Homo sapiens: one gene and its partner. The protein of the gene in region 1 interacts with the protein of each later gene in a biochemical or structural test. Each region holds a gene or a part of one and is shown in the gene's direction. Other genes may lie near its edges.

The links. Proteins that work in one complex are often made in the same cells at the same time.
Region 2: the proteins of FGF7 (region 1) and PTX3 form a complex in vitro, tested with the Homo sapiens proteins (one study listed by BioGRID).

Annotation. Positions count from the first base shown.
Region 1 is NC_000015.10:49,485,742-49,489,241, forward strand, and holds the end of FGF7 (fibroblast growth factor 7 precursor), read left to right. Parts: 3' UTR 1-3,034; downstream 3,035-3,500. UniProt on the Homo sapiens protein: Plays an important role in the regulation of embryonic development, cell proliferation and cell differentiation. Required for normal branching morphogenesis. Growth factor active on keratinocytes.
Region 2 is NC_000003.12:157,439,850-157,444,133, forward strand, and holds the end of PTX3 (pentraxin-related protein PTX3 precursor), read left to right. Parts: intron 1-2,516; coding exon 2,517-3,130; 3' UTR 3,131-3,784; downstream 3,785-4,284.

The DNA of each region.
Region 1 (3,500 bases):
AAATCATTACAAATATAAGTATTTACAGGATTTTAAAGTTAGAATATATTTGAATGCATGGGTAGAAAATATCATATTTTAAAACTATGTATATTTAAATTTAGTAATTTTCTAATCTCTAGAAATCTCTGCTGTTCAAAAGGTGGCAGCACTGAAAGTTGTTTTCCTGTTAGATGGCAAGAGCACAATGCCCAAAATAGAAGATGCAGTTAAGAATAAGGGGCCCTGAATGTCATGAAGGCTTGAGGTCAGCCTACAGATAACAGGATTATTACAAGGATGAATTTCCACTTCAAAAGTCTTTCATTGGCAGATCTTGGTAGCACTTTATATGTTCACCAATGGGAGGTCAATATTTATCTAATTTAAAAGGTATGCTAACCACTGTGGTTTTAATTTCAAAATATTTGTCATTCAAGTCCCTTTACATAAATAGTATTTGGTAATACATTTATAGATGAGAGTTATATGAAAAGGCTAGGTCAACAAAAACAATAGATTCATTTAATTTTCCTGTGGTTGACCTATACGACCAGGATGTAGAAAACTAGAAAGAACTGCCCTTCCTCAGATATACTCTTGGGAGAGAGCATGAATGGTATTCTGAACTATCACCTGATTCAAGGACTTTGCTAGCTAGGTTTTGAGGTCAGGCTTCAGTAACTGTAGTCTTGTGAGCATATTGAGGGCAGAGGAGGACTTAGTTTTTCATATGTGTTTCCTTAGTGCCTAGCAGACTATCTGTTCATAATCAGTTTTCAGTGTGAATTCACTGAATGTTTATAGACAAAAGAAAATACACACTAAAACTAATCTTCATTTTAAAAGGGTAAAACATGACTATACAGAAATTTAAATAGAAATAGTGTATATACATATAAAATACAAGCTATGTTAGGACCAAATGCTCTTTGTCTATGGAGTTATACTTCCATCAAATTACATAGCAATGCTGAATTAGGCAAAACCAACATTTAGTGGTAAATCCATTCCTGGTAGTATAAGTCACCTAAAAAAGACTTCTAGAAATATGTACTTTAATTATTTGTTTTTCTCCTATTTTTAAATTTATTATGCAAATTTTAGAAAATAAAATTTGCTCTAGTTACACACCTTTAGAATTCTAGAATATTAAAACTGTAAGGGGCCTCCATCCCTCTTACTCATTTGTAGTCTAGGAAATTGAGATTTTGATACACCTAAGGTCACGCAGCTGGGTAGATATACAGCTGTCACAAGAGTCTAGATCAGTTAGCACATGCTTTCTACTCTTCGATTATTAGTATTATTAGCTAATGGTCTTTGGCATGTTTTTGTTTTTTATTTCTGTTGAGATATAGCCTTTACATTTGTACACAAATGTGACTATGTCTTGGCAATGCACTTCATACACAATGACTAATCTATACTGTGATGATTTGACTCAAAAGGAGAAAAGAAATTATGTAGTTTTCAATTCTGATTCCTATTCACCTTTTGTTTATGAATGGAAAGCTTTGTGCAAAATATACATATAAGCAGAGTAAGCCTTTTAAAAATGTTCTTTGAAAGATAAAATTAAATACATGAGTTTCTAACAATTAGAAAAGAAAAAATTAAAACATGAAATGATAACAAAAGTAAACAAAAGATACTTTCAAAGCAGTGAACAAAACATTTTGACATAAGCCATAATATAAATTATAATATAAAAAATAAAAACCATAGTATAAATTGTCAGCCTTTGAGTTGGCTACAAATTCAATTTAATGACAGAAGAGAAGGGATGCTGGAGGTAAATTCTTAGGGTTTCTATCTCATAGAGTTTGCTCTTCTGGTTCTCTAGACTGCCAAAGAACATAAAGATGTGCGAGGGGACCTAGCTGTAGTAAAAGCAATCCTATAACAAGAAAAACTCTAAAACAGTGCCCCTTACGATTTTCTACTGAAATTTCTCTAATAGTAGAGGTGTAAAATAAGAAGTTAGAGAATAATGCAAAGGGGGCCCACCACAGACGGAACATTTCTTTTCTCTTAAGACTCATGTGATTTTTGCATCTTACTCCATAATATATTTGTGGTTGCGTTAATATGACAATGTCTGCAATTAAACACCAGTAAGCAAAATTGATACATCAGAATGACTTGCAGGGCTTATCATGCAGTTTGGTTTACATCCCTACTCCACTGCCATTTACTTGAGCGTGAATGAGACACAAAAGATTATTTGCCTCCCATAATCCAACTTTACACATAAATAACACAAGGCTAAAGAAAACCAGAACTCAAATTCACCACGCATAGGAGTGATAACAAAAATATTTAACAGTCAGTATGGGTGATTACTGGCCAATCAGAATACATCACTGATACATCGAAATGGATGCAGGCCACTATGACTAACTTGTGGGTATCATTTCTATGATCACCCTAAAACAGAGTTGGGAAAATATCTATTAACTGGTCTCTCTGGTTTGAATTCTCAATATGTATCTTAATATGAAATAGCTCATTAAAACTTCATGTGTAACTATTTCAGCATTGTTGTCAGCTACTCTTTATTCCACTTCTGTACAGTATTTATTCAACCAAGCTGCTGCTTTCAATGAAGGTCACTTGTTCCTTCAGGGACACATATACTCCCACCTATCCTTTAATTTTGAATGGTTTGTCAGGAAAATTTACTTTCTCTTGAGTTGAAAAACTTGACAGGAAGCAAGAAATAATACAGTCCTAGCCTCTTTCCAATAACATCTGATTTCTCCATTCTCAAACTACACTTCTCAAGGAACCAGATATTTACTCTCATCTGGGAAGATGCCTCTTATGTTTTCCTTTTACTTCCTGGTTATCATGTGGTTGCATTTTCCAAGTTCTTATCATTGAATTTATGAGAGCCTATCAAAATTTATTTTCTTTCATTTATATTCTAATAATTGAAATGTGAGATGAAAATAACATTTCACTTATGAAAAACCCTTCTCTTGATGAATCCTTCCATGTGTTAGTTATCTATTGCTGTGTAACAAATTAAAACTTAATGGCTTGAAACAAATATTTGTTTTCTCATAGTTTATGTGGCTCAGGAGCCTGGGCATGGTTCAGCACAGTGTTTTTGGTCAGAATTCCTCATGAGGCTGCAATCAAGGTGTAGACCAGGGCTGTAGTCATCTATCTCAATATTCAACTCAGAAAGGGATCCACCTTAGATCCTCACTGGCTGTTATCAGGACCTATCACTTCCTAACCACATGGACCTCTCCATAGCACTGCTTACAACATTACAGTCTGTTTCCCACGGAGCAAGAAATCAGAAAGTGTGAGATGAAGTACCCAAAATGGAAGCCACAGGTTTGTTTTTTTATTTTAATATATATAGCCTAGTTTCAAAAGCGATGTTACCTCTGCCTACACTCATGAGGAGGGTATTATACAAGGGCATACATACCAGAAAGCAGGGATCACTGGAAGCCATTTTACAGGCTGCCTGATCCAAGTCATAAACTAGGTGTTTTTAATGT
Region 2 (4,284 bases), on another chromosome or scaffold:
ACTCCATTCTCCTGCCTCAGCCTCCTGAGTAGCTGGGACTACAGGTGCTCGCCACCTTACCCAGCTAATTTTTTGCATTTTTAGTAGAGACGGGGTTTCACCGTGTTAGCCAGGATGGTCTCGATCTCCTGACCTTGTGATCCACCCGCCTCAGCCTCCCAAAGTGCTGGGATTACAGGTGTGATTGAACACTACTTTATTGAAACTTTATAGAGACTATATCAAATGCCCATGGATATGGTGATTTTTTTCAGTGATTTTTATTTGATTTTAATTAACACAGCTGGAAGAAAAGATGTACCTAGCAATTTCATTTGAAAATAGAATCACTGCCTCATTAAAAATTAATTTTAAAAAATCTTCAAAAGTTCAAATTATTTAGTGAAAAAGTATCAAAGCATGACAGAGCCAGTTTTGTGTTTTAGTATTGTAGTTACTTTTATATGATTATCTGAATGCCAATATTTTATTTGACTATCCCTAACACTAAAGGATAAGGTTCATATTTGTTTAATGTTTTCAGGATAGAGCCTACCCCTGAGCCACTTGTAGGAATCTGACATAGTTTACCACACTTTTACATGGATGTTTGGTTTCTGCAAGTTCTTTCTCTTTACCAGTTATTCTGGAACCATTCTGGGAGTTTGCTTTTCAAAGCTGTCTTATGGCATATCTTCTTTAGGTTGTTATACCTGCCCTAATTTAGGTGTTTTTAAAAAAATACCTACATACACATACACACATATATATACACACACATTTATATACATATATGTATGTATACATACATACATATCCATATGTATATATGTGTGTATATATACGTATACATACATATATATATATTTATGTATATAGATGCAGAGCTCACCTGTTCTTTCCCAGGGACACGTAAAAGGTTTTCGTTTCAGCATCTCCAGCTTCCCAAATGGCTAAGTCGCCTTGAGATGGACAATGGTGGAAACTTACTGAGCTTTCCACCTCAAATTTGAAAGTCCCCCTCCCAAGTGCTCTTTAGCAGAAACATGTTCTCCAACCAGGCCCCTTGAAAGAATGTACTTCTCTTAAAGATTTTCAATTACTGCTTAAATAGTAATTATAAGCATGTGGACAAGGTAGAATTTTTAAACACATTTTTGGTCTATTCAGCTCTTAAGTGCTACATACTTGCTGCTTACAGACTTGCAGAATATTAGGAGCAGAATGGAAGGGCCTTTTTTAGATAACGCTAAAGCCTAGAGGAAATTATGGTGCTCATCCAAAGTTGCATGGCTCATTAGTAGTAACACCATCTGGATTCTAGCCCTCCTAGAGAAATCTAGGGGTTCTATTAATAAGAGGCACTGTAGTGTGCTGATTAAGGGCGTGGCCTCTGTGACCAGACTGCAAAAATTCAAACTCTAGTTTTACTGCTTATCAGCTATGTAAACATAGATAAGTTACTTTTACCTAAGTTTTCTCATCTGTAAAATAGGAATGTAAAAGACTATCTCTTATGGTTGGCATAAGGATTAAAATGACAAACAAAATGATTAGAACAGTATCTGATACATAGTGAATGCCCAATAAGCTTAGTCATCATTATTATACATTGTTGCCTTTCAAAGGTAGTTTTCTAAAAACTCTGCAAAGTTTACAAATATCTGAGAACATTTGGTGTATTAAAATGTATTCTGCAGGCCAGGTGTGGTGGCTCATGCCTGTAATCCCAGCATTTTGGGAGGCTGAGGCAGGCGGATCTTGAGGTCAGGAGTTCAAGACCAACCTGGCCAACATGGTGAAACCCCGTGTCTAAAAAAAAAATACAATAGTTAGCTGGGCGCAGTGGTGTGCACCTGTAGTCCCAGCTACTCCGGAAGCTGAGGCAGGAGAATCGCTTGAACCTGGGAAGCGAAGGTTGCCGTGAGTCGAGATCGCACTACTGCAATCCAGCCTGGGTGACAGAGTGAGACTCTGTCTCAAAAAAAAAAAAAAATGTATTCTGCAATAACATCACTATCCTAGAATTTTGCTGAAAAATGCATGTTGGTAAAGGCTAAATGGAGCGAACTAGGTCTACTGAATTTCACAGGTTTATTATTTTAGGAACTTGGTGGTGGCAAAAAGAGAGAACCAGGTTGGGTTCTGAATTCTTGGAAATTATAGAATTATTGTCTGAAGTTAACTGATAGTGATTCAACTTTTTTAAAAAAAAGCAGTAACAAAGAAAATATGCAAATTGGAAGGGGAGGTAGTTATGGCTTTTATTATTTTGTGGGTTTGGACTAGTTGGCTCTTCTATTTGCGTGCTTTCTCTTCATTTAGATGCTTCATTGGATAAGACAATTGGCTTTCCTTTTTCTCATTTTCTTTGCTCTGCAGAGATTACAGTGGAAGCTTCTTAAGTCGTAATGTAGGGTTTCACATAGCTTTCAATTGTAATAATTAAAATTCTTATGTTAAATAACTAATGCCAGAATAATTCTGAATTAATTTATATTTTCTTTAATATTCTTCTTATTTTCTTGCTACTCTAGGTTGTGAAACAGCTATTTTATTCCCAATGCGTTCCAAGAAGATTTTTGGAAGCGTGCATCCAGTGAGACCAATGAGGCTTGAGTCTTTTAGTGCCTGCATTTGGGTCAAAGCCACAGATGTATTAAACAAAACCATCCTGTTTTCCTATGGCACAAAGAGGAATCCATATGAAATCCAGCTGTATCTCAGCTACCAATCCATAGTGTTTGTGGTGGGTGGAGAGGAGAACAAACTGGTTGCTGAAGCCATGGTTTCCCTGGGAAGGTGGACCCACCTGTGCGGCACCTGGAATTCAGAGGAAGGGCTCACATCCTTGTGGGTAAATGGTGAACTGGCGGCTACCACTGTTGAGATGGCCACAGGTCACATTGTTCCTGAGGGAGGAATCCTGCAGATTGGCCAAGAAAAGAATGGCTGCTGTGTGGGTGGTGGCTTTGATGAAACATTAGCCTTCTCTGGGAGACTCACAGGCTTCAATATCTGGGATAGTGTTCTTAGCAATGAAGAGATAAGAGAGACCGGAGGAGCAGAGTCTTGTCACATCCGGGGGAATATTGTTGGGTGGGGAGTCACAGAGATCCAGCCACATGGAGGAGCTCAGTATGTTTCATAAATGTTGTGAAACTCCACTTGAAGCCAAAGAAAGAAACTCACACTTAAAACACATGCCAGTTGGGAAGGTCTGAAAACTCAGTGCATAATAGGAACACTTGAGACTAATGAAAGAGAGAGTTGAGACCAATCTTTATTTGTACTGGCCAAATACTGAATAAACAGTTGAAGGAAAGACATTGGAAAAAGCTTTTGAGGATAATGTTACTAGACTTTATGCCATGGTGCTTTCAGTTTAATGCTGTGTCTCTGTCAGATAAACTCTCAAATAATTAAAAAGGACTGTATTGTTGAACAGAGGGACAATTGTTTTACTTTTCTTTGGTTAATTTTGTTTTGGCCAGAGATGAATTTTACATTGGAAGAATAACAAAATAAGATTTGTTGTCCATTGTTCATTGTTATTGGTATGTACCTTATTACAAAAAAAAGATGAAAACATATTTATACTACAAGGTGACTTAACAACTATAAATGTAGTTTATGTGTTATAATCGAATGTCACGTTTTTGAGAAGATAGTCATATAAGTTATATTGCAAAAGGGATTTGTATTAATTTAAGACTATTTTTGTAAAGCTCTACTGTAAATAAAATATTTTATAAAACTAGCTCACGTCATTTAATTATAAATTTAAGAGATGTTTTGGAGCAAACTCGTACTTTTCTCTTTTCATTTAAAGTAGGCAATTAGTTTTCAGATACTATTATGTAAACAGCATGGTTAATATTGTTAGGAATGAGCAACTATAGACTTGTTTTAAGTTTGGCTTCCTATAAATCATAAGCAAGAAATATTATCTCTGCCAAGTCAATTCATCTCTGTGGGTTTTAGTTTTCTCAGCTGAGAAATCAAGGAATTGATGAAATAAGAATCTCTAGGACTCTTCCCATTTGACAATTCTAGGAGCTTATACAACTTTCTGTACTGTGTAACATAAAAACAAACACCAAACATGAATTATCACAGTTCCTCAGATACACATGATGCTGCAAGACATGGCTTAGGAATGTTATTTGGGAGACCTAAGAATCTGGAAAAGAACTCCTGCCCTGAAAGCACACCCCATTCTCTTCCTTACTCAGAAGGGAGAGGTCAAGCCCCTTCACACTGTGGATGGGGAGGTAACTTTTCCCCACCACACTAGTATTCTCC